Regions from separate parts of the Homo sapiens genome. Here all the other regions are linked to region 1. Evidence: fine-mapped expression QTL. A gene starts in region 1. Each other region holds a variant in brackets. All regions are shown on one strand. Distances are from middle to middle. Region 1 holds the start of IGF1R (insulin like growth factor 1 receptor). Region 2 overlaps IGF1R (insulin like growth factor 1 receptor). Region 3 overlaps IGF1R (insulin like growth factor 1 receptor). Region 4 has its middle 29 kb from the start of LUNAR1. Region 5 overlaps IGF1R (insulin like growth factor 1 receptor). Region 6 overlaps IGF1R (insulin like growth factor 1 receptor). Region 7 has its middle 100 kb from the start of IGF1R.

The links. PIP is the estimated chance that this variant, and not a neighbour inherited with it, causes the effect.
Region 2: its variant is fine-mapped to the expression of IGF1R in blood mononuclear cells (TOPMed, PIP above 0.99).
Region 3: its variant is fine-mapped to the expression of IGF1R in whole blood (INTERVAL, PIP above 0.99).
Region 4: its variant is fine-mapped to the expression of IGF1R in whole blood (TOPMed, PIP above 0.99).
Region 5: its variant is fine-mapped to the expression of IGF1R in whole blood (TOPMed, PIP above 0.99).
Region 6: its variant is fine-mapped to the expression of IGF1R in whole blood (TOPMed, PIP above 0.99).
Region 7: its variant is fine-mapped to the expression of IGF1R in non-classical monocytes (Schmiedel 2018, PIP 0.95).

Annotation. Positions count from the first base shown.
Region 1 is chr15:98,645,995-98,650,336 of GRCh38, forward strand. IGF1R (insulin like growth factor 1 receptor) reads left to right here and starts at 2,545. Exons shown (of 21, transcript NM_000875.5): 1 at 2,545-3,681. The coding sequence starts at 3,588. It overlaps IRAIN (IGF1R antisense imprinted non-protein coding RNA), which reads right to left. Exons shown (of 1, transcript NR_126453.2): 1 at 1-4,342. RefSeq lists an enhancer at 647-1,268 and silencers at 1,280-1,329, 1,340-1,809, 1,870-1,929, 2,300-2,569.
Region 2 is chr15:98,859,005-98,863,346 of GRCh38, forward strand. The region is part of intron 2 of IGF1R (insulin like growth factor 1 receptor); the gene reads left to right. Among named protein-coding and RNA genes, the nearest start is that of MIR4714, 77 kb to the left of the region's middle. The variant C/A (reference allele first, on the strand shown) is at 1,788.
Region 3 is chr15:98,691,069-98,695,410 of GRCh38, forward strand. All of the region lies in intron 1 of IGF1R (insulin like growth factor 1 receptor), which reads left to right. Among named protein-coding and RNA genes, the nearest start is that of IRAIN, 42 kb to the left of the region's middle. The variant C/T (reference allele first, on the strand shown) is at 2,535.
Region 4 is chr15:99,041,221-99,045,562 of GRCh38, forward strand. No RefSeq gene overlaps it. Among named protein-coding and RNA genes, the nearest start is that of LUNAR1, 29 kb to the left of the region's middle. The variant T/C (reference allele first, on the strand shown) is at 1,881.
Region 5 is chr15:98,944,600-98,948,941 of GRCh38, forward strand. IGF1R (insulin like growth factor 1 receptor) reads left to right here. Exons shown (of 21, transcript NM_000875.5): 20 at 3,975-4,109. Among named protein-coding and RNA genes, the nearest start is that of PGPEP1L, 61 kb to the right of the region's middle. The variant G/A (reference allele first, on the strand shown) is at 2,211.
Region 6 is chr15:98,954,268-98,958,609 of GRCh38, forward strand. IGF1R (insulin like growth factor 1 receptor) reads left to right here. Exons shown (of 21, transcript NM_000875.5): 21 at 2,794-4,342. The coding sequence ends at 3,175. Among named protein-coding and RNA genes, the nearest start is that of PGPEP1L, 51 kb to the right of the region's middle. The variant C/T (reference allele first, on the strand shown) is at 2,434.
Region 7 is chr15:98,544,983-98,549,324 of GRCh38, forward strand. No RefSeq gene overlaps it. Among named protein-coding and RNA genes, the nearest start is that of IGF1R, 100 kb to the right of the region's middle. The variant C/A (reference allele first, on the strand shown) is at 2,481.

The DNA of each region.
Region 1 (4,342 bases):
ATTTTTGTTCCTTTTTTTTCCCTAAATATTAAGCTATATAATGATACATCTCCCACTTCACTGTTTAAAATAACTTAATACGATTGATTTCCTACTACTTCAGGAAAACACAAACATTTAAAAAATTCACAAATAAAAATCATTTTAGTAAAAAAAAAACACACAAAAACAAATCCTACAACCCCTACAACAACCTATATACATTTAAAAATTCTATAGACCTCTTTATGTTCTTGGGGACAAATAAACAGGCATATTTATTACTAATACTAAAAATACATTGGGTAGTATTTGAAGATTTTATATTAGCACTAGCCTTTTAAAAATCAGCTCTAAATTTTTGTCTTACAAGTATGTATTAAAAATTCTGAAATCAAGTATAATGAAATTATATATCAATATTCCTTTGCATTTAACTCCAGAGTGGATCTGCAGGAATCAAGACCAACCTCATGCAGAGAACTTAAGAAATATTTAAAAATTAGTAGACTGGACTTTAATTCTTCATGTGTAGTGCCTAATTTTTAAATAATACATTTTAAGATTCTAATAAATTTATTTCACTGTTAAATCTAGGAACATCCAAAACTGAAACTCTTTATTTAAAAATCAAGCTGAATTTCAGTTAAACAAAACCATCCCATCATATGAATAACTTTCTTAGGTAAAACAAGGTTTATTTTCTTTCTATACAACTGACTCTGAATTGAGCTAGAAATTTCCAAGGAGGAAAATGATCTAGGAAACAACTTTAGAAAAAAAGGGCTAAGTTTCCGTTATGATAGCTTTTGACTTGTTTTCAGCTCTTAAAAAATTATTTACGAACGATGGATACACGTTCTAATGCAGAAGTATTTTAGAATTAGAGAGTAAAAGAAACCTACTACCTTCCTTTACATCAGGTCCCTTCTACCATCCTACCCGATTGTTTGAGACAACCACTTCTTATCTCGACAATTCACAACTCTTTTATTAGCTATCTTAAAAAAATTTATTACTGGCATCAATTAGCCTGAGTCATGAAACCGGACCACATTAAGGGCGACACATGGTCCAATCACTGTTTGTAAAAGTCCACGTATTTCAAACTCCTCTCTCCTGCCACTGCTGGGCTGTTTCCCTCTTTGAGGACCTGGTCTCCGCAGCATTTATTCATTAGATGGCAGTCCTAGGGGAGTCTCGCTTTGGGGAAACCTCTCCTCCTGCACATTCAAGAAAACAACCGCGGAGACTTAGGGTCGGTACTGGTTTCCAGTCACTTACGTAGCAAACGAAGCAAGAGGAACGTGCCTGGGAGGACCCGAGACAGGTGCGGGTGGGTTTCCGCAGTAGCCGCTGATCCCGAGTGCATGCGGCGTGTTCCCGGGTCGGGACCGCGGCCAAGGGAGGCTTCCCGGCCCCAGCCTCCACCCCCTCCTCGGCGCCCCGGGACCCGGACACGCCCCCCGAGCTTCGGAGACCCGCAGCGTGCACGCGCCCCGGCCGCTCCCCGCAGCCGCCCACGTGGTGGAGCCCTGAGCTGCGCGAGGCCGCGGAGAGCGCTCAGGGCGGGCGGCTGGTCCGGGAGGCCACGCCAGCGCGACCCAGCCGAGTCGGCCCCCAGCCCGGGCCCCCACATTTCCTCCCCCGGAGGGAGGGAGGCGACTCTCCGCGGGCTGCCCTCCCCAGCGCCCGCCGCGCCCTCTGGCGGCCGCCGCGGGGACGCGCCCGGGGCACGCGGCGCTGCCTGTCTGGGCCCCCCTTCCGGGGCGCGGGGCCCGCGAGGGGCGGCGGGGTCCTCTCTCCTCGAGCCACTCTGGGCCGAGCCACACGGGCCGCGCCCTTCCCCCTCCGCTCCCCCTGAGCCCCCAAACTCCGGGCTCCACGGTCGCAACGCCGCGGGCACCCCAGCCTGGCGTGAAAGTGCCCGGCGTAGTAGCCTGGGGGGGGGGTCCCCTTTCTCCCAGGTGCGCCCCTTCCGCCACGTTCGGGCTTTCCAGTACGCAGCGAAAAAAATGCCGCATGCACGCATTTATTTATTTTGCAACAGCTGCAAGAAACAATGAAGCTTTTCAAGAACCGGGGAAACGCGCTTTCCAGCCGCGCTGTTGTTGTTTTCAATGAACCTCTCCCAGCCCCGCACTCCCCGCCCACCCCTCCCCTCTCCTGCCCACCCCTCCCCTGCCTAGCCTTTCCCTGGCTACCCACCCCTGCCCCGCCGAGACCGGACCGGCGGCGGGGGCATTGTTTTTGGAGTCGGGCGGGAGGGGAGGGCGCGTGCGGGGTGGCCGGCGCAGTGCGGTGGGGGCGGGAGCGGGTGGGCACGCGCGCGTGTCTCTGTGTGCGCGCGGGAGGCGGTGGGGCGGGAGATGGGGGCGGCGCCTCGCAGTCTCGCGCCCCACGCCCGGGCTCCGCTCCGCACGTCTTGGGGAACCGGGCTCCGGTTTTTTGCGCGCGCCGGCCTGGGCCGGGCCCTCGGCGCGCCGCTGCTGCGGCGGTGGCCGCTCGAGTGTGCGAGCGGGCGCGTGTGCGCGGGCCAGGGCGCGCGCGCGCGCGCGAGCCCCCAGTGTGTGGCAGCGGCGGCGGCGGCGCGGCGAGGCTGGGGCTCTTGTTTACCAGCATTAACTCCGCTGAGCGGAAAAAAAAAGGGAAAAAACCCGAGGAGGAGCGAGCGCACCAGGCGAACTCGAGAGAGGCGGGAGAGCGAGAGGGACGCCGCCAGCGAGCCTGCCCACGGCCGGCGCTCGCAGACCCTCGGCCCCGCTCCCCGGATCCCCCCGCGCCCTCCACGCCCCTCCCGCGCGGGGGCAGCTCCACGGCGCGCCTCGCCTCGGCTGTGACCTTCAGCGAGCCGGAGCCCCCGCGCAGAGCAGGCGGCGGCGGGCGGGGGCCGGGCGGGGGCCGGCGCGGGGCGGGCGGCGGCGCAGAGCCGGGCGGCGCGGCGGGAGTGCTGAGCGCGGCGCGGCCGGCCCGCCGCTTTGTGTGTGTCCTGGATTTGGGAAGGAGCTCGCCGCGGCGGCGGCGGCGCTGAGGGAGGAGGCGGCGGCGAGCGGAGCCAGGAGGAGGAGGAGGAGGGGGAGCCGCTCATTCATTTTGACTCCGCGTTTCTGCCCCTCGCCGGCCTCGCCTGTGACCCGGACTTCGGGGCGATCTTGCGAACTGCGTCGCGCCCTCCCGCGGCGGAAGCTCGGGCGTCCGGCCGCCTCCCGCGCGGCCAGGGCCGGGCTTGTTTTTCCTCGCCTAGGCAGATTTGGGCTTTGCCCCCTTTCTTTGCAGTTTTCCCCCCTTCCTGCCTCTCCGGGTTTGAAAATGGAGGCCGACGACGCCGACAGCCCGCCCCGGCGCGCCTCGGGTTCCCGACTCCGCCGAGCCCTGGGCCGCTGCTGCCGGCGCTGAGGGGCCGCCCCGCGCCGCCCGCCCCGTCCGCGCACCCGGAGGGCCCCGGCGGCGCCGCCTTCGGAGTATTGTTTCCTTCGCCCTTGTTTTTGGAGGGGGAGCGAAGACTGAGTTTGAGACTTGTTTCCTTTCATTTCCTTTTTTTCTTTTCTTTTCTTTTTTTTTTTTTTTTTTTTTTTTGAGAAAGGGGAATTTCATCCCAAATAAAAGGAATGAAGTCTGGCTCCGGAGGAGGGTCCCCGACCTCGCTGTGGGGGCTCCTGTTTCTCTCCGCCGCGCTCTCGCTCTGGCCGACGAGTGGAGAAAGTGAGTATGTGCCCGCCGCCCGCGGCCACTGCGGGAACTTTTCCTCCGAGGGGCTGCGCCCTGTTTGCGAAACCCGAGTTGCCACCGTCGCAGCTGTCGGGCCCCCGGGCTCGGGAGCGGCGGGGTGGGGCGCAGGGCGGCTCTGCCGGGAGGGAGGCTGCAGCGGACCCGGGACCCGGGCTCGTTCGTCTGGAGCCCCGCGGGCCCTGGCTCCGCGCATCCCCGCGCGGGAAGGGCTTTTCTCTTTCTCCGTCCTGACAGCCCAGCCGTGTTTCCCGGCTAGGCGCGAGGACTCGGTAGGGAAGTTGGTGCCGGGGCGGGCTCCGCGGTTCCCGGGCCCCGCGACCCGCACCTCGCCCCTTCCATGCGCAAGAGCCTCTCCGCACACAGCGCTGATCCCCTGCGGCGCGCAGGCAGCAGCGACAGCACCCTGGGCCGCACCGCGTCTCCGCTGCTGGGGCTGACCGGGCAGTGGGGAGCGGGCAGCCGCCCGGCCCGCGGGGTGCGAGTTGCCCTCGAGGGGGGAGGTGCCCTGCGGAGAGGCCCCGAAGCCCCAGGACACGTCTCCAAGCGCCCGTCGCTGCCTCCCGTCGCCCAACGTGCTTTTGCCCCTCGGGCTCCTCGGGTTCCTGGCCTTGCCCGTCACTTTGGCCCGCTCCTC
Region 2 (4,342 bases), 210 kb after region 1:
GCTCATTAGGAAGCCCAGCCTCCGGGGAGGGTTTAGCTTCTCATCTAAGCAAGAAGTAAAATGTCATAATGGAGGAAAAAAAAAAAAAAGTCCAAACTTTTTTTGGACTTTTAGAAACACATCCAGTTTGAGCTCCACTGAGCTATCATTGCAGTTACAAAGCCCATGTATATTGAGATCGGTGTAAAAATTCAGCATGTCCACCTGCATAATTATGACCAGTGTATTGAAAGCACATTTCATTTAGTTTTGCAACAGCCGATGAGGTAGATTCTACCAACATTGTTTTACGGAAGAACAAATGGAAGCCTGGAAAAATAAATTGTCTACCTCACACACTTCGCAGGTGGTAAACACAGGATTTGAACTAAGACATACTTGATTTTAAAGTGTTTGCTTTTCCTTTGCACTACTGCATCTGCGATGTTTGCACTCAGACACTCTAGAATATTTGGTGTTGCATGTTTTTGCCCCAAGAAAGAACCCATTAAAATGAAACTTTCCAGTTCGTAAGCTTTGCCCTCAAGAAGGGAAAGAACTTCTTGCAAGGTTTCTGAAACAAAAAGAAAATGAAAAGTAACTTTACTGTATCTGGGTTTTCTGATTAAATTACGGTTTTTGCAAGCTTGTGCATTTCTCAGTGTCCAGATAGCCAGGATTTTTCCTTTTAATAAATATCACTTTAAAAAACAAACACACACATTCTTAAATGCATGATTAACTGTATAGATTGATTTAGTTATAAGATGTCCTAGCCTAAATATAAGAAGGTGTATGTGTTAGAATTAATTTCTTCAATAAAGAGAAAGAAATTCAGGAATTGTGGTTCTGTTGGTCTTCTGTACTGTATATTTTTGTGCAGCCAAAGCAGCATGCCTTGCTTCTTGGTTTCATGACCACATGGGTAGTTTCTTGAAGTTTTTTCTTTTGAGATGGAGTCTTGCTCTGTCACCCAGGCTGGAGTGCAGTGACGCGATCTCGGCTCACTGCAACCTTCACCTCCCGGGTTCAAGCAATTCTCCTGCCTCAGCCTCCCGAGTAGCTGGAATTACAGGCATGTGCCACCATACCTGGCTAATTTTTGTATTTTTAGTAGAGACGGGGTTTCGCCATGTTGGCCAGGCTGGAGTTTCTTGAAGTATTGACTGATCCTTGACTCTGAACTGTATGATCAAAGACTTTTGAAATGGCACACCGTTTCTTAACATTTAGGCCAATTTCAGTTGCTCATATCCAAAAATAAGTCATGATTTTCGGAGTCAGTGCGCAGCACTTAGTACAACAATCCAAACCCTTGTACAGACCATCCTAGTAGAAATGTGGATCTTGAGTATCTCAGCTTCTTAGTAGATTTTGAACTCCGTGAAAGCAGGAGCCAGGCCTCTCACAGCAAGTCTCTCCAATATGCTCAGTAAATATTTGTCAGATCGAGCAATGACCAGATGATGAAATACATTAAAGCCTTAGGGAGAACTGAGACTACTGCACCAGTTTTTGTGCACTATCATGCTGGAAATCTTTCCAACATGTATTCTGTACTTCTTTGCTTCTTACTCCAGTGAATATAATTTAGTCATTTCTGGCCAACTTGAGGACATCAGCGAGCATAAATTGTTGTATTATGCATAATACAGTGATACCCTCAAGGCTGAGTGGGAGGCAGTTTGCCCTCTGCTGAAGGTTTCTTGTGCTTATTGTGTTCTTATGGTTTGGTTTTACCATTTTTATGTCTCCATTTCTGTTTAATAGACTTATTTCAGTAAGAAGAGAAAGCCGTCTCCATCAGC[C/A]CCTCTGTAGGTGATTATTTGCCACTTCCTTTTTGCTGTGAGTGCTTTGAAAACAGATTTCTAAGCTTGTTAGAGTTATGTGTTAAGAGTAAATAGGCAGTAAGTGAAACCAAGCTTCTTCCTGGTGCTTGACTACCCCAGAAATGTTTATTTGCTGAATAGTTGAGTTCTGGAAAGGTGAGGTATAAATGTGTGATAAATTTATTCCTTTGCATGATTTTTTTTTCTTTTTCTTCCCTCCCTCCCTCCCTCCATCTATGTCTCTGTCTTTCTCTGAACATCTCTCCGTCTCAGTCTGTCTCTCTCATGATAGTTGCTGGAATAATTTAAATGAATGTAACTCATTTACCCACATCGAAGCCCAACTCAGTAGTGAAAAAACAAATCTTCCAAATGAATGCACTTTCCCCTTGATGTGCTATATACAAGACCTTGGCACACCTAGTTCAATGACATAGTATTTTAGAAGGGCCTCCTTACACCTTCCTCTCAGATAAATATACATGCAGGGACATTCTGAAGAAGTTTGTTATCGGTCTTCTCCCCTCCTACTATTAGCTCCGCCCTCCTAGTCCTTCTCTTTCACCATGCTGACCCGCGTAGGGAGGACCCTTACACCCTCTGCATGCAGCGCTGGTGCTCCTTAGTGTTCATAACCCCAACCTCCATGGCCTCTCTCGCAGTTCTCAGGTTAGGCCCTGCTTCTAGGGGACATTAGCTTTCCACCCTCTACTACATACTTCCTAGTTGTTGCAGCCTTTGCAAGCAAAACTTGTTTTCATTTGGGAGACAGCATGGTCTGACAGAGCCTAGATCCTGGGGTGAAGACATTCTGGGTTTGTATCCCGTCTTTACCACCTCTGAGCCTCTGATGCTGGACAAGTCAGCAAGTCTTTGCACCTTAGTCTCCTTTCTGTAAAAAGGAGCTTATGGGGATGTAATCAGAGAAGCCTTAGCATGGCTCTTGGTACAAGGCACGGACCAAATCCATGGTACGCTCACTCCTTTCCTTTCAGTAATACTGCCTAAATAGGGCACATGTACCTAAAAGGATTTTGTACATTCCTTGACAGCAGAATTCTCATCTTCTGTTGCATATCCCATAATGCTGGGAACACAAAATAAAAATGGTAGCTTTTCACATTCACTTTTGGCCTCAATTTTTTGTTATTCCCCAATGAGGATCATTTCATTTGGGGCTGGTCTCCGGAAAAAAGTAGATCAAGCTTTTCAGATGAGATTTGGGTGAAACCCTGACAAACTCTTTTTATTGCCTTCCCTACCACATAGTGGTGGATCAGGAAACTGTAGGGCTTATGATGCTGGGAAATTTCTGCTAATGCAATAAAGATTTTTGCTGTTGAAAGAATTTGATCTGTTTTATGTATAACATGCAGAGAGCAGAAGCATATATTATCTGTAGCAGATGATAGAGCAGGGTATATGGGCAAGTTAGAAAAACACAGTTCTCACTACATTTGAAGAAAAAGGACAAGGAGTTGTCACAAGGATCCAGGAGAGTCGCACATAATTTTCTGTCGTGCATTTTGTTGACTGTTCCTCTTTGCATCCTTCAACCATCTTAACTTCCCACTTGCACCTCGCTGGAAGACAAATCTAAGCTAAATTAAATGCTAGGCAATATGTCAGAATGGAAAGGGCCCTCAACTTGGGATGCCCGGTTCTCTACCAGCCTGAATAAACTCCAGCAACAGTATTTCTCTAGGAATCATCTGTAAAAAGTAGAGGTTTGTCATATCTCTAAACTAGGGATTCACCTTATTTATTAAGCTATCAGTGACTTTATCTTGAGGTGCACGGCTTTTAGTAACTCTGGTTCAAGTGCAAGGAATGCAAAGTTAAGTGTATCATTGGAGGTGGGATTTTTGAGTTTGTCAGTCATTTATTGATTTGCATGTATCCTTATAGTTCAAAGGTCTTTTTCTCAACTTAGTTGATGATCATGCTGTAAGTTGTTTTCTTTTGCTTTATCAACTTTTAAAAACGTTTATTAACTTTTTAATTTGAAATAATTTCAGACTTGCATAAAGGTTACAAAGAGTACCAGGAGTTCTGGAACACCCTCCACCCAGCTTCCACAGATGTTAACATCTTACATAACCGTAATACGGTTATCAAAACAGTGTTCACTCCATACTCCAGTGCTGTTAATCTCCAGACTGAATTCGGATTTCACTATTTTCCCACTGATGTCCCTTTTTTTGGTTCCAGATCCAAGAGACGATCCTACCTGGCATTTATTGTGTTCAGTTTTTCTAATTCTGGGACGTTTTCCTGGGTTTTCTTTAGTCATTCACGAAGTTCGCACTTTTGGAGAACATGGGGCCAGTTATTTTGTAGAATATCTTTCTGTTAGAGTTTGTGGATGTTTCCTCCTGATTAAATTTGGGGGGTACATTTTTAACTTGGAGATCACAGAGGTGCTGCTGTTTGTGTCTTTGCGCATCCTGTCAGGAGATGCGTGATGTTTCCTTTCCTGGTGCTGTTAGCTTTGATCCCTTAGTTAAGGTGGTCTCTGTGGCTTCCTCCATTAT
Region 3 (4,342 bases), 45 kb after region 1:
TCACCATGGTAATTTGCCACAGCTAAGGAACCAGCATTAGTCCATGACTGTCAGTGAACTAAACTCAAGACTTTTTTTGGATTTTACCAGTTTTGCCCAATGTTCCTTTCCTGGTCTAGGATCCTGTGCAGAATAGCGCATCACAGCACATTACATTTAGCTGTCTCCTTCACCTCTTCTGGTCTGTGACAGGGTCTCAGACTTTCCTTGTCCTTGGTGACTTTGACAGTTTCGAGGGACACTGGCCAGGTTTTGTGCACACTGCCCCTTAATTTGGAGTTGTCTCATGGTTTTTTTTGTTTTTTTTTTTTTTTGAGACAGAGTCTCACTCGTCTCCCAAGCTGGAGTGCAATGGTGCAACCTCGACTCACTGCAACTTCTGCCTCCCAGGTTCAAGCAATTCTCCTGCTTCAGCCTCCCGAGTAGCTGGGATTACAGGTGCCTGCCACCACACCCAACTAATTTTTGTATTTTTAGTAAAGATGGGGTTTCACCAGGTTGGGCAGGCTGGTCTCGAACTCCTGACCTCGGGTGATTGCCCACCTCGGCCTCCCAAAGTGCTAAGATTACAGGTGTGAGCCACCCTGCCCGGCCCATGGTTTTCTTATGGTTAGTCTGGGACCATGGGTTTTTGGGAGCAAGACCACAGAGCTGAAATGCCCTCCCTTCAGTGATTTGTCAGCATGACCTATCACCATTGTTGTTAACCTTCACCACCTGGATGAGGCAGTGTATGCGTGGGGACATACATCTATTTGCCCCACTGACATGAGGGTTGGATCTCTAGAAGAGGAGTCACTGTTCAGAGGTTATAGGCATTTGTATTTTTTGGCAGATGTTGTCCTTCAAAATGGCTGTACACATATGCTCCTCCCAAAAGTAGGAGAGTGCCTGTTGCCCCATGTCCTCACTCAAGCTTGGTGTTATTAGATTGGTAATTTTTTTGTGTGTGAATCTGTTAAGTTAAAAATATTTCTTTCTTTGGCCGGGCACAGAGTGGCTCATGCCTGTAATCCCAGCACTTTGGGAGTCCGAGGCGGGCAGATCACTTGAGCTCAGGAGTTCAAGATCAGCCTGGGCAACATGGTGAAACCCCATCTCTACCAAAAATACAAAAAAATTAGCTGGGCATGGTGGTGCTTGCTTTTGGTCCCAGCTACTTGGGAGGCTGATGTGGGAGTATCACTTGAGCCCAGGAAGTTGAGGCTACAGTGAGCCGAGATCGTGCCACTGCCCTCTAGCCTGGGTGACAGTGTGAGACCCTGGCTCCAAAGAAAAAAAGAAGATTGATTGAGATAGGGTCTTGCTCTGTTCAGGCTGGAATGCAGTGGTGTCATCATCATAGTTTACTGTAGCCTTGAACTCTTGGGCTCAAGCAGTCCTGCTCCTTTGGCCTCCCAAAGTGCTGGGGTTACAGGCATGAGCCACTATGCTCAGCCAAGCTAAAAATATCTTAGTGTGCATTTCTCTAATTGTCAGAAGTGTATTTATTTACCATACCCTGGAAACCTTATGTAAGATGATGGTGAGTTTGGACTTTCCAGTAACATTTGGAAACTGTTTAGTACCAAGCTCTCATTAACAATATAAACAAAATAGGGGTCTACCCTTAAGGAATCAAAGCCATTATCTAAAAGCTCTTTCCCGCAACAACTACCTGAGATAATGTCCTTGGTCATATGCCCCAGCATTTAAAAATGGAGTTAGTGAGAGTCTGTTGTTTACCACCTGATACATTGGTAAGAGCTGCTTGATGGTATGGGGACATCAGTAGGGAGGATATAGACGTAGCCACCCCCGCCCTAGATAGTAGGGGCCTCAGGGTGGGGTAAGCCTGGGTGGGGGAGGTATGAGTGGTGGAACAGTGGGAGACCCTGGATCCTTAGTCTCCAGCGTGATTGCATTTTGCCAAGGCTTTGTCCCATGTCCCTTTGTCCCGTGTTCCATTTGCCCGTGGTGTTGCCTAGAGAGCATGGAGGGGCTGGTGGAGCATGCTCTGTGGTTCCCTAACCCAGGGCTGTGTGGGGAGAGCTTGCAGCACCCCCCTGACCCCATATGAACGTCCTTGCTATTTCCTGCTGTGCCATCCAGCAACTATAGGATGCTGTGCTGTGGCTGGGAGACCTGTTTGGTCTTGGAAGCTGGGTCCTGGATGAGCAGAATGAGGCAGGCATAGAGGTGATGTTGGCTACGGGCAGGGGAGCGTTTGCTTTGCCTTGGAGTAGTGCCATTTCCATGTAGAGGGGCAAGATTTACCACCCTGTTGTGGGGATTTGAGACTTTGGGTTTTGTTTTCCTTTACACCTTGAGCTTTGTTCTACAGCAGGTCCCTGGGAAGACTGGTCCACAAAGCTGCTGAATGGGGCTGCTGTCCTTCAGCCCTGCCTCCTGCTGCAGAATGCAGAGGACGCTGTAGACTTGCTTGGTGGGTGCCTGGGGTTTTCTGCCTCCCTGGTGCACTGGGCACAGCGGCTTGCCTGCCTTTTGGGTCGTCTCCACCTCCCAGGGATGTTTTTGTTCCCTGATCGAATGAC[C/T]TCCTGTTTTGTTTGTTTTTTGAGACGGAGTTTTGCTTTGTCACCCAGGCTGGAGTGCAATGGCATGATCTCGGCTAACTGCAACCTCTGCCTCCCGGGTTCAAGTGATTCTTGTGCTTCAGCCTTCTGAGTAGCTGGGACTTCAGGTGTATGCCACCATGCCACGCTCATTTTTGTATTTTTAGTAGAGATGGGGTTTTACCATGTTGGTCAGGCTGGTCTCGAACTCCTGGCCTCAAGCAGTGCGCCTGCCTCAGCCTCCCAAAGTGCTGGGATTACAGGCGTGAGCCACCGTGCCTGGCCTGACCTCCTGTCTTCTGTTTTTGCCCACTGTCAAGGGTAGACTTCTTCAAGGCTGTACTTGTGCTATCCTAAAGAGGAGTAATGGGAGACATTTCTGACTTTGTCAGCATGCTGCTTGGCAGCACCTGCCTCGTTTCTGGTGACCATTTGGAAATGTGTCCTTTATCTGGTAGCAAGGAGCATTTACATTGATCCCTATGCACTTAATTGGCATACTTTTATTCCTCTGGATTTTTTTTTTAAAGCATAATTGTTCGTGTCTACATGATGTAACATGCTGCTGACTTTTAAGCAAATTAACAGAGTTCGTGCTGAAGCGCAAGGGTGCAGGGAAACAAAATGGGAGGGTTATTAAAGGGGTGAGGCGGCTCCTCAAAGATGTCACTGCACCATTCATTCTTGTGTTCCTGGCCCATGGCAGGCTCATTAATCCTCCACGACAATCCATTAGCATGCCTGTCAACCCTTCAGAGAAGATGAGCCATAGGAAGGCTTAGGGATCCCCACTTGAACTGCTGTGTGGCTCTATGAACATCCCCACCTTCCTGGAGTGAGGTGGTTGTGGCCACCTGACTTTCCCCATTTTTTTTTTTTGGACCTCAGCCTCCAGCGCTCCTGGGCCAGACTCAGGGTGGGGGGGATGCAGGTGCCAGTGACTGACACTTGGCCCCTCACACTTCACTGCCTGATTTGCTTTAAAGGCAAGGGTTGCTCATGCTTGTCTGAGCTCTCCATCTGTTTGAGAATTATATTGTTCTCAACTGGAACTTGTAAAAGAGAAAAAAATGTACTTCTCAATTTCCATGGAAGAATATAGATTTTCTGGTGGGGTGGAAACTTTCTTAGCATGAAGGGATCTTTGTGTGATCTGCGCATCAGCACTGAATAAAGAATGGGTGCGCCGAAGTCGGGGAGGCCGACTTTCCTGTGGCTTGCTGGGGAAAGTTTGAACTGTGTGTAAGCAGTGCGTGGAAGGAAAGCTAAGTGTGGAGATAACGAAGGGAATGGGATTTAATAGAAACAGGGTGTGATGAGTGGCAGTTGCCTGATGAAGTGGAAATCTTGTGTTCCAAATTTGTGAGATCCATTTCTGTCCTCTAAGGAAAATGTTGTATGTGCAGGAGGAGTTCATGTAGTTGGGTTAGATTGTGTTTTCTGTCTTTATTTTTTTTCCTGCCTCTATGGGTTGTGAACAAAAACAAGAATTTGATATTCTGCAGTATAGTTAACTCGTGCAAACAGTGTATGCTTTTCAGTGGGATATAAGGTCTGAAATAATAGGATTTTCCCTAGTAAGTCAGTTTCATTCCTTTACATGTGGGTTATGAGATACAAAGTGAAGCTCTGTAAAGCTTTTTACGAGCTCCCTGTGTTGCCCTCCTTTGACGGGTCAAGGCATTGGGGTTGACAGAGGTTTCTACTCTCAGAGGCTTTAAAGAGGTGCCCACTCTGGTGAGATGGCTGTCAGCATGCACGATGTGTGTGAGAGAGCACCTCTTCAATCA
Region 4 (4,342 bases), 400 kb after region 1:
GACTGAATGCAGGTCTGGTCCTGGAACATCTTGTCATATCAGAAAGCAGCAATGTTAAAGACTTCTAGCATCATGTCCAAAGGACTCAAGAACTAACCTAAAGAGGTTCGCACTAGCCAAAGTCAGAATAATTTGAAGCTACAGTAAAGATAATGTTTAAATTCGTGAGTACATAATAATATTGAAACAATAAAAAAGAACTAGTCACCCTCAGAGGATGACAGGAAACCAATTCATTATCTTGGAAACTGATGAATAAAGGAAGAATCTAGCATCTATCCCCGTTTCTATATGAACTGTACTGCTGGGTAACCAGATAGCAGTTGGAGAAGGATCTCCTTAGAACAGTATTACAACCATTAAATAACAAAACAATAAAAAAGATAGAATGTCACCATTTTGCATCCCCAGTGAATTATTAGATGTAGGCACTAAGCATCAACAACTGCTAACATCAATAAAAGAGACAACAGGGCTTTATATGCCTCCTATTGTCTTGCCAAACCAAGGGATCAAATCTGAATCTGATACAGTTTCTGGATCCAGCTGCCCAAATTTCTGGAAATACAGAAGGCAGAGAAATGCAGTGTACTGTGAGGATGTGAGCAGCAAACTCTAAGCTGAAGGAAGCTAAACCACTCAGGGAGAGCCCAGGTTCCCCAAGAGATTATCTCTACGGAAAAGAAAAGGATGAGAGGGAATTTACAGATTAAAAGAGACTTGAAGTCTTAAATTCTTTAACTCGGCAAAGCAATGCTGTAGTTTTATGGATACACCATTTGGTTGATAAAATTATTATTATTATTATTATTATTATTTTGAGATGGAGTCTTGCTCTGTTGCCCAGGCTGGAGTGCTGTGGTGCAATCTCAGCTCACTGCAACCTCCGCCTCCTGGGTTCAAGTGATTCTCCTGCCCCAGCCTCCCGAGTAGCTGGGATTACAGGTGCATGCCACCACACCTGGCTAATTTTTGTATTTTTAGTAGAGACAGGGTTTTACCATGTTGGCCAGGCTGGTCTCAAACTCCTGACTTCAGGTGATCTGCCCTCCTCAGCCTCCCAAAGTGCTGGGATTACAGGTGTGAGCCACCACACCTGGCCAAATAAAATTATTTTTAAAGGAACTAATAAGTATAGAAACCAGCACAGTGGTTACTTAAGAGATAAAAGAGGGTTTGTGATTGGGAAGAAGCAGACAGAGGTGCTTCTGGGAAGACTGGCAAAATTTTATTTCTGACTTGAATGATGTTTATCTTAAAATCATTCAGTAAGCCACACATTTGATTCATGTGGCTTTCTGTCTCTGGGCTTTCTTCACAATAAGAAGATTATTTTAAAACATAGATTTGAATACATGGCAATAATGCTACATAAGGTTGGAAGAAGGGCAAGTGGAATTAAAGTGGTCTAAAACCTTTCTATTGTCCTGGGAGAGGGCAAATGTACTGATTACCTTTAAATATACTTCATTGTAATGTGCATATTGTATACATGCAAATATATATAATTTCTAGAATAGCAACTAAAAGAATAGAAATAGAATATATAACTCTCAATGCAGTAGAAAAAATAAATGAAATAATAAAACTTATCCCACATTTTTAGGCAAGAAAGGAGAGAAAAAGAGGCATGGAGCAGGTATATTACGGGTTGAATTGAGTTCACCAAAAAGATATGTTGAAATCCAAAGCCCCAGTGTCTGTGAAAGTTACCTTATTTGGAAATAAGGTCTTTGCCAATGTAAAGATAAAGTCATGCTGAATTAAGGTGAGCCCTAACCTAATATGGCTGGTGTCCTTATAAGAAGAGAAGAGACAGACAAAGGGAAGGAGTCCATGTGACCACAGGGCCAGTGGAAGTGATGCAACTGCCTGCCAAG[T/C]GCACCAAGGATGGGTGGCCACCAGCAGAAGCTCGGAAGATGCAAGGAAGGATTCTATCCAGAGTTACAGAGGGAGCATGGCCCAGCTGACACCTTGATTTCAAACCTGTAGCCTCAAGAAATGTGGATAATGACCTTCTGTCATTTTAAGCCACCCCGTCTGCAACACTTTCTTATGGCAATGTGATGGGTAAGCTTATGTGTCAATGTGACTGAGCCCCAGGATGCTTAGATACTTGATGAAACATTATTCTGAATGTATCTGGGAAGGGATTTTTGGAAGAGATTAAATTTGATTTGGTAGACTGGGTAAAGCAGATTGCCTTCCTCATAGGAGTGAACCTCATCCAAGCCACTGAAGGCCTGAATGGAATGAAAAGATGAGTAGGAAAGAATGAGCTGGGACATTGGTTTTCTCCTGCCTTCAGACTGGAACTGACATCATCAGCTCTCCTGGGTCTCCAGTTTGCTGGAGTTTGGACTTCTCAGCCTTCATAATCACATGAGCCAATTTCTTATAGCAAATATCTTTGTCTATTATCTATCTATCCATCATCTATCTATCAATCAATCATTTACCTAATTGTCCTATTGGCATATGTATCCTATTGGTTCTGTTTCTCTGGAGACCCCAGGCTAATACAGCCATACCCGGGAAACTAATACAAGGTAGAACAATTGGAAAGCACAAAATAAAGTGCCAAATGTAACCAAATACAGGTGGTGGCTCATGCCTGTAATCCCTGCACTTTGGGAGGCCGAGGTGGGTGGATTAATTGAGGTCAGGAGTTCGAGACCAGCCTGGCCAACATGGTGAAACCCCATCTCTACTAAAAATATAAAAATTAGCCAGGCGTGGTGGTGCACGCCTGTAGTCCCAGCTACTCAGGAGGCTGAGACAGAAGAATTGCTTGAACCAGGAAGGCAGAGGTTTCAGTGAGCTGAGATAGTGCCACTGCACTTCAGGCTGGGTGACAGAGCCCTGTCTCAAAAACAAAAACAAAACAAAACAAAACAAACAAATGTAACCAAATATATCACAAAATGTAAATGGTTAAATGTTCCAGTTAAATGACAATGACAGGGTGATTTTTCAAAATTTCAACTATATGCTGTTTTCAAGAAAAACATCTAAAATAAAAGCCCACAAAAATTAAAATTAAAAGATTGAAGAAATCACAAAATGAAGCTGATGTGGCCACATTAGTATCAAACAACATATGCTTTATGGACAATAGTTTTAGCAGAGATAAGACAATCACTTCATGATAAAAGATTGAATTCAACAGGACTATATAATAATTTAAAATGTATATGTACCTAGTATCATTTCCTCAAAATACATCAAGTAAAAAATGACAAAATTAGGCCAGGTGCGGTGGCTCACGGCTGTAATCCCAGCACTTTGGGAGGCCGAGGTGGGTGGATCACCTGAGGTAAGGAGTTTGAGACGAGCTTGGCCAACATGGTGAAACCCTGTCACTACTAAAAGTGCAAAAATTAGCCTGGCATGATTGCGCATGCCTGAAATCCCAGCTGCTTGGGAGGCTGAGGCAGGAGAATCACTTGAACCCAGGAGGCAGAGGCTGCAGTGAGACGAGATTGCACCACTGCACTCCAGCCTAGGCGACAGAGCGAGAATCAGTCTCAAAAAAATAAAAGACAAAATTATACAGAGAAAGAGACAAACCCTCATCAATGTGGAGATTTTTAACAAAATCAATGAGTAGCTTAAAAAGATGTGGAATATTATCACATACTAAAAGGTTACACTATATAATATGTATGTTATATCCTATAATAATGCAAACATAAGGAAACCAAACAAATCTGTAGAACTGGCCCTTCTCTTACTCCTACTATAAGCTCTTAGCTGCATTGAAAGATAAAAACAATGATGAACTAATCAGATTAGAAGTGAAGTCCAAACAGTGTTATAATTGCCAAGTATAGTCTTTTAAATAAGGGTTCATATGAACTGTCCTTAATGATGAATGTTGCCCTAAGCGTGCACTGCACCTAGAGACACTTGCTGATAGTAAGATACAGTCACCAGGATTGCTTTGACACTTGAAAGCTAACCTTCACTTTTCAGGAAGGGACACTGGAGCCACTGGATATCCCCATTGTGGGAACTGGGGAGAACTGTGTTCCCCACCTAAAAAAATAATGCAAGATGGATACCAAACTTACATGTAATTTTTTTTTTTTTTTTTGAGACGGAGTCTCGCTCTGTCGCCCAGGCTGGAGTGCGGTGGCGCCATCTCGGCTCACTGCAAGCTCCACCTCCCCGGTTCACGCCATTCTCCTACCTCAGCCTCCCGAGTAGCTGGGACCACAGGTGCCCACCACCACACCTGGCTAATTTTTTGTATTTTTAGTAGAGATGGGGTTTCACCGTGTTAGCCAGGATGGTCTCGATCTCCTGACCTTGTGATCCACCCACCTTGGCCTCCCAAAGT
Region 5 (4,342 bases), 300 kb after region 1:
CACGAAGCAATGATTCCTAAATAGTTAAAAATCTAGAAAGAAACACTAAGAATTGTATTGGGCTTTGTAGAAGAGACCCCAGAATTTTAGGATTTGGGATGTATCCCTGCAGTCAGGCCCAGTCCCCAGTGCACCTGCAGATCTTTGACAGCTGCTGGTTGAGCTTCTGCTAAGAGGTTTCCTTCCAGGGACTCCATGTTCACTGCCTCACAAAGGCAGGCCAGCCTCATGCTTTAGACATCCTTGCTCTTAGCAAATCTTTCGTGTTCTGCTACGTCAGCCTCTGTGTGACACCCATTGGACCTTCTCTCTGTAGCACAATTGCATACCTTGCTCTGTTCTTGATAAGATAGGTCTAGGAGTCATCGAAGAGGTGTGTCTGTTCTAGCCAGAACACCTCCAAGTTTCCTGCTGTCTTCCAGGACTTCATTCCCAGGCCCTTGGGCACTGTGGCTGCTCTCCCTGCAGCTCCCTGTAGCACCATGTCCCTCTGAAATGACAAGGGTGCCCTCTAGGCATGGAGGAAACCAGACGAAGGACTGGGGAGCTGCACCCCACAGCCTAGAGCTGTGCTTCTTCCCGAGCATCTGGATCACCCAACACATAATCTTTATTTTTTATTAAGAAGCTTTCCAAATAGTCACAAATAGCCAAGGTTATTTGCTTCTTTCATGACTAATTACCATCTGTGGGGAATGTGGATTTCTCTGTAGGTTTTAATTTGCTGGTGAGTGGGCCATTGCTACCATCCCCTCCTGGTGTGGGGAAGTATAGTTACTGAATGCTGCCTCCAGCCAGCACGGGCATTGCAGGGGGACTCACAGCCGCCGGTCTTCCCCCTGGGGAAACAACGTCAAGGTTCCTAATTAGAAAGGGCTTTACACAGAGACATGTATCTACTGTTTGAAGATTAAATCTGTCCATGAAATGGAAGACTTGATTTTATATGAAGTCATGAAGAGCCAACACCACATAGTAAAATACCGGCTTTGAAAAACACAGAGGTGTTGCATATTTCTCGGTGCTTCTGACTGGCTGTGTGGCCTTGGTTAAACCTCAGAGCTTCTCTGGCCTTCGGTTGCTCCATCTGTAAGGCAAGGTCTGTCTCGAGAAGTCTGCGGTACCTGAATAGATGTTGAAATGGCTCCTGTGGCAACTGGTATTGTGTAGAGATGGTTCAGTGTCCACACCTTGCAGTTGTCACATTAAGCTGTGAAGGACGACTGACTCTAGCACTCAGTGGTCCTCAGTGGCAGGTGATGTTGACCTCAGACAAGAGTTGCTCAGGAGATAGGCTTTGCAGTTCACCTCGACAAGCGTTTGTGGAGAGCTAGGTCTGCTACCTCCTGTATCGTTGCCTGTGGGTGATGGTAAGGCTCTTGGGGGTGTGGAAGATGCGGGGATGATGATGATGACGATGATGACGATGACGACGATGACAGCGTCGTCGTCGTCCTGGTCCTGGAAGGATAAAGTCTTGTGGAGAAGAGGAGGCAATTCTGACAGTTTGGGGTTGCATCATCTTCTTCACAGAAGAGATGAAGTTGTGTAGGCACCCTAAGTATGGATTGTCACAAAAAGAGCACTAGGAAGCGGGGCGGGGCGGGGCAGGGGTGGGGGGTTCCTGGCAGTGGGAATGCTGGGCAGGCATGGCAGTAGGGAGCACCTGCTGCAGGTGGGGTTGGTGAGGTTTCCTCGTGGGACTTAGGCTGCAGAGAGATCAAGACAGGCCTCAGCTGTTGTATTAGGCATCCTGGACTAATTCTTTAAGCCCTGTTAAGGTTTCTGAACCAGAGGGTGATTAGAGCTGTGCTTGAAGTTCTTGTTAGCCGGAGTATACAGCTGCATTGAGCAAGATGTTGTAACCAAAGGAGAGGTGGTGGTGGGCCAGGCAAGCAGGATCCTGCACACTCAGGGAGCTCTGAGGGACGGAAGGAGGGTGCCAGACCTTGGACAGATGTGAGCCTGGGTGGACAGTTCGCAGTGGGACTCCGAGGAGGCCAAGGGCATGGGTGACAGCAGGCAGACTGCTCGGGTGGAATGGGCATCAGCTGCAGGGAAGCCGGGGGAAGAACAGGGCACAAATCGGAGTTCAGTGTGAGACGCAGTGAGTTTGTGGGTAGCCCAGTAACTGGGAACTTGGAATGGAGCAGTTGGGCCGGGAGGGCCAGGGTGGGAGCCGTGCCGTGAGAACTGGCTGCCTGCAAGCC[G/A]CTGACACAGCCAGGAAGGGCACGTGGGGCAAGAGGAGAAGTGGGTCTGGGAGGGAGCCACATCCTCAGGCCATTTCCCAGACCAGCCTGCAGTCAGCAAAAGCAGAGAGCTAGTCATTTCTTCTTATTTTATTTTTAATTTTTTGTTGTTGGAGAGCTAGTCATTTCTTGTACCAAGCTGCATTTCAGATGTGTGGGTACTACTGCCACTGGCATCTGAGGCATGCTGCCTGTATGGCTGGGCTGGTTGTGGAAGGCAGAGCTTCCCGCACAAAGCTGATGGAGAGCCCCTTCTCCCCTGGGCCCAGGCCTCTCTAAACTGCACTTTTGGCCTCTGGGTGTCTTGTACAACATGAAGACGACAGCATTTCTTGGTCACTTGTAATTAAAAAGGACCTTGGGTTGGTCTGTCCTCTGATTGCTAAGATTCTATTTCTGTCTAACATCTACTTTTAGTATCAATTTGTACAAAAATCTTTGATTCACCGAAAGTAGCTGAAGCAGCGAATAAAACGTTCTCATACAGTCAGGAGCACTGTGGGCTTGGGCACAAGGTCAAGGTCCCAAGAGCTCTTGGTTGGAAATCTCCTGCCCCAGGTTTTTCCATGTGGCTTGACCAGCACCTGCAGCCCAGGACAGGTCCAGCTAGAATCCCTGCTCCCCACCCTGCTCCCGCCCCTACTTGGTGATGAGTAGCCTATTTTACTCCACCAAAGTGAACCACATGGAAAGGCACACAGGTCAGGGAGAATTTGTGAATTACGGAATTTGCCCTGGGAGGGCACATTTGTTTTGCAGATTCCAGCATTGTCTTTTTTAACATTCTGTCTGAAAGTTGTGTGTGTACTCTCTGTTTTGTTTTCCAGTGGTTTGATCTTCTAAACTGGCAAAGCTGCATGCATATGGCAGAATTGCTCACTACAAAGTTATTCCTCAGCCAACTTCTCTGCTTAAGGATTCTTTGTCCATGATACCCCCTCCCAGCCAGTGCAGCCCACCCTGGTCCCCCCACCTGTGACACAGAGGCCCTGCAGGCCAGCAGCTCCCCAGCTCTGTTGTGGGTGGGGGAGCAGCAGGAGTTCTCTTCTCCCTTGGCCCAACTGGACCTCAAGATCCCTATAGATCTTCTAAACATTCCAGGTCCCAGGCCCTCACCCCAGACCAATCAAATCAGAGTTTCTATTGGGTGCCCAGCCCTCTGTTTAAAAACCTCCCCAGGAGATTCTCCTGTGCAGCCGGCAGTGAGAACCACCTGGGTAGAGGTTTCCAAAATTGTCTGATTGTAAAAATCACCTGAGGAGCTTGGTAAAGCTTGACTGTCCCAGGCCTCATTTGAGGCTACTAAGTCAATGTCCAGGCTGGGGCTTGGACAAGAATGTCATTCTTTTTGGGTCAAAGCCAGGTTAGGTGATACCGCCTTGCCAGATAAATGGCCGGGACTAGGTAGATGCTGAACCCAGTATGCTCTGCGTTCAAAGCACAGATCAGGGGCTTCCTGACCGTGCAAGGGATGCCGGAAGCGCCCTCACCACCTTCCTTAGCTCCACCACCGGGGCTGAATTTAGTTTACGGGGAACATTAGCAGCAACAGAGGGAGGATGATATCCCGCACTTAGCCCAGGGCCTGGCTCGCTGTCTGACAAGCACTGTCACCATAGTAAGGACAGTTTATCTGCTCGGGATGTAAGAAGTGCTGGAAAGGAGGGGGCAGCATTGTTCAGTCCATCCCTTTCCAAGCTCCTCACAGTTTTTTTCTCCCTGTAGGTCCTTCGGGGTCGTCCTCTGGGAGATCGCCACACTGGCCGAGCAGCCCTACCAGGGCTTGTCCAACGAGCAAGTCCTTCGCTTCGTCATGGAGGGCGGCCTTCTGGACAAGCCAGACAACTGTCCTGACATGCTGTACGTACTTCCTGGGCCCTCCGTGCTCTTCTGAGTTCTCTTCTCAAATACCTGTTTTCTTGGGTCACAGGAGATTAGGAGATTAAAGCCATTCTCTCTGGTCCTGCGCCTCCCTTGCCAGGCGTGGCTAAGAGGTTTGTCCTTGTGGAAGGAGCTGAGTGGGTTGGTCGACCTGTGCTTTTCCGTGGGTACCTTAATTCTACCCCATATTCCGTAATGCTTTCGTTCCGATT
Region 6 (4,342 bases), 310 kb after region 1:
CTTCCCAGCAGGGCAGGAATTCCATTTGAGTCTTGTCCCTGTTCCAGGAGAAGGGCTGGGTATGTGTCCCCCAAAGGGGAGAGCATTCGAGAAGGATGGCGCCAGCCTCCCCAGAACTGACCTGTGGTTAAAAAAAAAAAAAAAATTGTGCTTTTTAAAAGATGAGTTTTATCAGCTCACACATCCTTCTAGAGTCTAATGGAGATTTTTTGTGTGTGTGGAAATAGTAAACAAGGTCTTGAATCCCACAGAGCAAAAAAGACTTCCTTTCATGGGCAGCACTGGAAGGGTTGTTACTCTGGAATGGTTTAAAAGAGGCGTCACATGGCTTGTTTGTGCTGATGTCACTGCCTCGCTGCTCTCCTGTGGCACCTCCTCGGTCCCTGGCCACAGGGCACAGAGCCAAGCACATCTCATGCTCTTGGCCCAGTTACGCTTCTGCCCAGGGGTAAGTCAGCTGGAGAGGAATTCACAGCCCAGGCATTTCATGTCGTTATGGCCTATTTTAATTTTTTTAACCCCAATCATTTTTCTTAGGAAGTGATGGGGAGTTTGGAAAGGCAGGCTTATTTGTCATCAAGCTGCCAGCTTTTATCAATGCAAACCACATCCCTGTGACATCTGTGACTGTTCCTTGGACAGTTAGGTGAGGGAGGGTCTCCTGGTGGCCCCAGGGTTACTCTTATTTAGGTTGAGAAAAATTCCTTTTTCCAGGATCGTTGGTGATCAAAGTGTAGTCATTCTGTTGCGCAGAGAACTCCATCCCAGCTCCACCCTCATGAATTTTGTAATCTTGGACAAATTATTTAGTATCTTAGTGCTTCTGTTCCCTCATCTGTAACATGGGGGTATATTATAGTCAGTAGCACCTGCTTCACAAACTCGTGAGGACTTCAGCAGTTCACACACATAACTGCCTCGCTGCCTGGCACCTAGCGTGCACATGGCATTCTACCGTGGGGTAGACTTTTAAAATTCTGGCTACAGAGATACTTTTCCATAAAAGTGGCCACATGGAACTCTCCAAATCTAAGAAGCATACTGTGGGGGCCTTCATATTTTGTCTAATTCTTTTCTCCCCAGAACAGGAACCTGCACCCTTCCTTCTTTTAAAGGGCGACGTGGTAAATAAACATTTTTAGACTTGCAGGCCACAGTCTCTGTCCTAATGTCCTCAGCTGGTAGTTGTAGCTGGAAAGCAGCTGCAGCCCACATGGAAATGAGGGAGCGTGGCCCCATGCCAGTGCAGCTGATGTAGAGGCGGGCAGCCCCGGGTTAGGCCCTGTGGAGACGCAGGCCCCCGGGCTCTAGAACGCTGAATTCTAGTGAATTCTGGATGGCTCTCCCTCACACCCAGGCCCACCCTCCCTCAAGGTTGCACCTTCTCCACCTGAAGGAAGCTGCCAGGTGGCCATAGGAGCCCTTCTCTTGGCAGGCCAGCTTCCAGGCCCAGTGGCTTCTCTTACATCAGGGGCCTCCCCTTGGAATGTTCCCTGAAGGCCAGACACGGGCAGGTAGTCTGTGGTCAAGCAGCCACCCTGACAGGAGGCTAGATGCCACTGGGTGTGCTTTGAGTTTCCTAGATGTGGAGAGTTCTGTGTGGCCACTTTTATGGAAAAGCATCTCTTTAGCCAGAATTTTAAAATAAAGAGGATAACTTCCTGGTGAGAACAGACGTGGAAAGGAAGGCACTTTGGTTTCACGCTCATGTAAGAGAGGGCTGTTGGCGGTCACTCCTCAGAACTATGGCCAGCCCTGGATGGTAGCCAGCTGCTTTTTGCCCCAAAAGTCTGTTTAGCTGGGTCTCTGCATTCTGGAAGCTTGTCAAAGCCCGGGCCTTTCCTGGGTCAGGGCAGCCGGCTTTCCTTGTCCACGTGTGGCCGGCTGTTTTCTTGGGGAGCCCCGGCCACAGCCGGCAGGACTCCCTTTGCTCCATGTGACTCTGAGGGCCTCACAGGTATTTGCAGCCCAGGTGCTGTCGGAGCCCAGCCGATGCGACCGACACACAGCACAAGCGTCATCCTGTTCTGCCTGTCCCTTGCGTGTGGAGGGGACTCGTGCCCAGGGCTCTCCTTGCTGGCTTGTTGGAATCTGGCTTCAGGTCTACACGGGGCCTCTCGTTTGGTCCAGAACAGCCTGGCTCATCGGCTGGGGCTTGCTTGTGCAGGGCTGGAGCGAGCACGTGCTAGATGGAGACAGCAGACTCGGAGTGTGCATTTCTTCGTGTTGCAAGCCTGGCCTCACAGTGCCTTCTTCCTTTGGTTGTCTGCCAGGGGTAGCCCTGCACCAGGAGGAAGCTTAGAAATAGCACAGGTGGGAACCGGAGAGAGAGCACTGTTGGGGAAGCTGCGGTCACTCATCAGCCTTCCTGGTGAGAAACCAGGGGTTTCCTGCTAATTCTGGAAAGGATGTTTCAGCAGTGCCTGCATGAGA[C/T]GCCTCAGATAGAAAACTGGTTATTTTTGTTTCTTAGCACTGCCACCATAGATAACAGCTGTCACGATGGACAGTGTGGACCTGGATTAGTCCTTCTTGGGAAAGGAGAGTTTGGGTTTTGTACCGTGGTGGTTCTGGGTTCTGGGGGAAGAGAATGGAACCGTACGAGGTAAAACAGGAGACTCTGAAGGCCACTTGGCCATCCAGGCAGAAAGCCAGGGATGGAGAGGGGCAGCAGGGCTGTGTTCAGTGCTCCCGCCGTACGCTTGTATGCGGGAAACCACTGCAGGCGGCCCATGAAGCCTCCTGGCCATGTGCGCCCTCCCGGTTTGGACCCCCTCCCGTGTGTCTTGGCTGCAGGTTTGAACTGATGCGCATGTGCTGGCAGTATAACCCCAAGATGAGGCCTTCCTTCCTGGAGATCATCAGCAGCATCAAAGAGGAGATGGAGCCTGGCTTCCGGGAGGTCTCCTTCTACTACAGCGAGGAGAACAAGCTGCCCGAGCCGGAGGAGCTGGACCTGGAGCCAGAGAACATGGAGAGCGTCCCCCTGGACCCCTCGGCCTCCTCGTCCTCCCTGCCACTGCCCGACAGACACTCAGGACACAAGGCCGAGAACGGCCCCGGCCCTGGGGTGCTGGTCCTCCGCGCCAGCTTCGACGAGAGACAGCCTTACGCCCACATGAACGGGGGCCGCAAGAACGAGCGGGCCTTGCCGCTGCCCCAGTCTTCGACCTGCTGATCCTTGGATCCTGAATCTGTGCAAACAGTAACGTGTGCGCACGCGCAGCGGGGTGGGGGGGGAGAGAGAGTTTTAACAATCCATTCACAAGCCTCCTGTACCTCAGTGGATCTTCAGAACTGCCCTTGCTGCCCGCGGGAGACAGCTTCTCTGCAGTAAAACACATTTGGGATGTTCCTTTTTTCAATATGCAAGCAGCTTTTTATTCCCTGCCCAAACCCTTAACTGACATGGGCCTTTAAGAACCTTAATGACAACACTTAATAGCAACAGAGCACTTGAGAACCAGTCTCCTCACTCTGTCCCTGTCCTTCCCTGTTCTCCCTTTCTCTCTCCTCTCTGCTTCATAACGGAAAAATAATTGCCACAAGTCCAGCTGGGAAGCCCTTTTTATCAGTTTGAGGAAGTGGCTGTCCCTGTGGCCCCATCCAACCACTGTACACACCCGCCTGACACCGTGGGTCATTACAAAAAAACACGTGGAGATGGAAATTTTTACCTTTATCTTTCACCTTTCTAGGGACATGAAATTTACAAAGGGCCATCGTTCATCCAAGGCTGTTACCATTTTAACGCTGCCTAATTTTGCCAAAATCCTGAACTTTCTCCCTCATCGGCCCGGCGCTGATTCCTCGTGTCCGGAGGCATGGGTGAGCATGGCAGCTGGTTGCTCCATTTGAGAGACACGCTGGCGACACACTCCGTCCATCCGACTGCCCCTGCTGTGCTGCTCAAGGCCACAGGCACACAGGTCTCATTGCTTCTGACTAGATTATTATTTGGGGGAACTGGACACAATAGGTCTTTCTCTCAGTGAAGGTGGGGAGAAGCTGAACCGGCTTCCCTGCCCTGCCTCCCCAGCCCCCTGCCCAACCCCCAAGAATCTGGTGGCCATGGGCCCCGAAGCAGCCTGGCGGACAGGCTTGGAGTCAAGGGGCCCCATGCCTGCTTCTCTCCCAGCCCCAGCTCCCCCGCCCGCCCCCAAGGACACAGATGGGAAGGGGTTTCCAGGGACTCAGCCCCACTGTTGATGCAGGTTTGCAAGGAAAGAAATTCAAACACCACAACAGCAGTAAGAAGAAAAGCAGTCAATGGATTCAAGCATTCTAAGCTTTGTTGACATTTTCTCTGTTCCTAGGACTTCTTCATGGGTCTTACAGTTCTATG
Region 7 (4,342 bases), 100 kb before region 1:
AGATCACACGGAGGCAACCCATCAAATGCCCATCAAGTGTCCAAAGTGGTTCACTGGGTCCATGTTCTGAGCCAGGTTTTTGATCATGTTAGGTTCATTCCTGCCTCAGGGCCTTTGCACACACAGTTTTTGTTGTTGTTGTTGTTGTTTTGGTTGTTTTTGTTTTTGAGATGGAATCTTGCTCTGTCACCCAGGCTGGAGTGCAGTGGCATGATCTCGGCTCACTGCAACCTCTGCCTCCTGGGTTCAAGTGATTCTCCTGCCTCAGCCTCCTGAGTAGCTGGGACTACAGGAACACGCCACCATGCCTGGCTAATTTTTGTATTTTTAGTAGAGACAGGGTTTCACCTTATTGGCCAGGCTGGTCTGAAACTCCTGACCTTGTGATCTGCCCACCTGGGCGTCCCAAAGTGCTGGGATTATAGGTGTGAACCACCGCACCCGGCCTGTTTTGTTGTTTTGTTTGGGCCTGGCTTTCCCCTCTGGCTTTTGAAATAACTCTTCCTCATGTTACCTCCTCAGAGAGGCTTTCCTTGACTACAATATCTAAAGTTACTCCTCCCAACCACTAACCATTGTCCTAGTGCTTTGTATTATTTCTATGCACCATTCATCCATCTATATTTCTTTCTTTCTCTTTTCTTCTATGTTATCAGCGACTTGTATAGAATAGATTCCTAATAAGTATTTATTAAGTTATTGAAAGAATGAGGCCAGGCACAGTGGTTCATGCCTGTAATCCCAGCAATTTGGGAGGCTGAGGCAGGCAGATCTCTTGATGCCAGGAGTTGGGATATCAGCCTGGGCAACGTGGCGAAACCCTGTCTCTACCAAAAAATACACAAATTAGCTGGGTGTGATGGTGTACGCCTGTAGTCCAGCTACTAGGGAGGCTGAGGTGGGAGAATCACTTGACCTCAGGAGGCGGAGGTTGCAGTGAGCTACAGTGGTGCCACTGTACTCCAGCCTGGATGACAGAGAGAGACCCTGTCTAAAAAAAAAAGGAAGAAAAGCATGAAGAGATTAATCACAGTGCTAAGGACTCCTCTGAGGTCACATCCAGGCTCAGTGGGGCAGAGCACTGAGAAATGAGCCTGTGCTGTCATACGTAGGATGTGGGGAGGCCTGGCTCACCAGCACCTGAGAACCCTGACTTCCATATTATCCATAACGGGGGTACAGGCTAGGGCTTTCCCCCATCAGCACCCAGCAACACACTACCATCTATCCATTCACAGGTGGGAGTCTCCAGGAGGGGAAGCAGGTAAGGCACAGGCAGGGCCCTGCGCAGGTGGAGACTGGTTTTGTGTCTGGGGTTTGTTCCTTCTGGTGGGTTCCTGGTCTCGCTGCCTTCAAGAATGGAACCGCAGACCTTCACAGTGAGTGTCACAGCCCTTACAGATGGCACAGACCCAAACAGTGAGCAGCCGCAAGACTTAATGTGAAGAGCAAAAGAACAGATATCCCACAACATGCAACGGGACCCAAGCAGGTTGCCTCTGCTGGCTGGGGGGTAGCCAGCTTTTATTCCCTTATCTGTCCCCGCCCATGTCCTGCTGATTGGTCCATTTTACAGAGTGCTGATTGGTCCATTTTACAAACCTCTAGCTACAGAGCGCCTATTGGTGCATTTTTACAGAGCACTGATCGGTGCATTTTACAAACCTCTAGCTAGCTACAGAGCGCCCATTGGTGCGTTTTACAATCCTCTTGTAAGATATAAAAGTTCTCCAAGTTGCCACCCGACCCAGAAGTCCGGCTGGCTTCACCTCTCAGTTTCGTGTTCTACTCCAATACCATCTGTACACCTTCATGCGGGGATTAGGGATTTGACAGGTGAATAGGTTACTCAATAGCGTTCAGAGTTCATAAACCAAGACTCTACCTGCTTCCCACAGCCTGCGTTCATGGGAAAGAGGCAAGAAAATAAAACCAGCCTCAGCTATATCGAATCCTTTCCTTCCCCTCCCAAGTCATTAACAAAGACTGACACTGTAGTATTTATCAAAAAATCTTGTTCCCTAAGTGGTGATACAGAATAATTATCTCAGCATGCAATCAGCTCAGCGATCTTCTTCAAAGCAATTTGTGGCAAGGATATGCAGTTTTTAAATAGATTAAATTTTCAAGAGCTTGCCTCTGAAACCTGGTCAGAATGTATTTACAACTCACCTGGTGAGATGATGCGTATCTTAAGCTGGAATTCTCTTTCGTTAGGTCTTGCTTAATTGAATCAAGCAAAGTCATTTTGGGATCGTCCCAAAAGAAACCCTTTTATCTCAAGGCAAATGTGTTTTAACAAGGCCCTAAGGTGAATAAAAGCTAGGTTTCCACTCACCGGAGCTCTCTGCTCCTCCTTTCAAAAGCCTACCACTCTACTTCATTTGTTTTTCTTTTAAGTGAGGAAATTGCTTATGGAGTTAACTGTTGCCAGTGAAAGCAACAAGTTGCCTCTCCCCTCCTCTACTCTTAAGAAACAC[C/A]TTGTTTCCCTCCCTCTCTTCCTTCCTTCTTTTAAAATAAATAAGTTATGCATAGCTGGAGCGTGCATGCAATGCTCAGGCGTGGTCCTGGTATAGCCAATAGCGTCATATTCAGCCCTGTTTAATTCCCACTGTCTTGGGTCTAGAATTTAGGCTTTTGAGAAATCTTTATTGAATTAATGAAAACTCAAAGACCACGATTCTGCATTCCCCCAAATCCTGAAGTGCAGTAGGAGCCCATGCAGGGCTTGGGACGGGCTTTTTGCCTCAGCAGCCAGGACAGCCTCTGCATCCGTGACCACCTCCCCGCCCCCCTCGCATTCCCCCCCATCCCCTGGTGATATCCTTCTAGCGCAGGCTCGTGCTCTGGAGGCGGGGTGGGGCCGGGATTCTGCAGCTGTAACCAACTCCCCCGCTGGGGGCATGGGGCTGGTCCCTGGGGCGCACAGAGAAGTTGTGACAGATAATTGACGTGATCGGGAGGGGCGTCCAGGCAGACCTCATGTGACTTCTAAAACCAACCCACAAATCTGAAGCGTGGCTTGCGTGGTCAGCCGCCTGCCTGGCACCCGGTGAACAGTTTCTCCCGGACTCTCTGCATCTAGCCCCAAAGAATCTAAGATTCTTTGTCTAGAAAAGTGCCCTGGTCTTCCCTGGCACCCTTCGCGGTGGGTTTCCTTGACTCCGCATAAACTCCCGTTCCAGCCCAAATCAGAGGCGGTCGCAGCAGCCGTTCCTCGTCTCCATCAGCATCCGCGTTGCCATTTCCCCGTCCTGAGCTGTTGCTCATATCAAATGTCACTCGGGGATGACTAAGAGCCGATGTTGATGAGGAGCCTTCAGCGTTACGGTAAAGGAGCTCGTGCAAACTTAGACCCCAGTCATCTGACGGTCACGTGGGCGGGCGTCGCGGCCCAGGCCCCCGCCTCCTCCGTCCTCCGCGATTCGGACATGACACGGTCCTCCGCGAAGGGCAGGCGTTACATAAACCCGGCGAGCTCACACCGTGCGGCGGGGAGCAGCGCGAACGCTCGACCCGGACACCTCCCTTCCAGGTCCCGTTCCGTAGGCGGGGCCGCTCCCGAGGCACAAGGAGGCCTGCGCGGCGCCCGAGGTGTCCGGATCCCAAAACAGGACCCCAGGAGTTTCTCACACTCAGGACTGGCCCCTAGTTGTCAATCCAGAAAAGGCATCCTCCGTCCTAGATCCAGCCTGTATTTCACGGAAAGCGTTTCCTCCCCCATCCCCAAAGCCGGCAGGGGTGGGGCGGAGAGGGGAGGCCCGGGGAGACTGACTCTATTATATAAACTTGTAATTGGCTCCGGTTCCTGCGGCTCGGGCGGCACTGCAGGACGTTTCCAACCAGATGGGTTGTGAGGCCCCGCGGCTTCCTCCTCTTCTTCCCTCCCCCTCCGCGCCCGTCCCCTGGCCAGCCAAGCCCCACCCTTCTGCCTTCCCAAGGCTACCAGAATTTCCCTGTCTTTCCAGTCCTCCCCTGCACAGGAGATGGCACCCAGAAAAGAAATGCATGATGATTTGAAAATGGTATTCCATTGTTAAACGAATGTATTCCCAGTCTGCTAGTCCTGGCTCCAGCTGACTCTTAGAATCAATCACCTCAGTAACTCAAATGTTCCAAGCTGGGAATCAGTCATCTCAGACCGGCATTCTCAAATGAGCTGGGCGTAGGGGGGTTGTCAAAACTCAGAGCGCTGAGCCCGACGCCCAGAATTATGTTCGATCGCTCTAGATTGGGCCCCAGAAATGTGTATTTCTTTCTTTCTTTTTAGAGGCAGGGTCTCCTTCTGTCGCCCAGGCTGGAGTCCAGTGGTGGAGTCATGGCTCACTGCAGCCTCCACCTC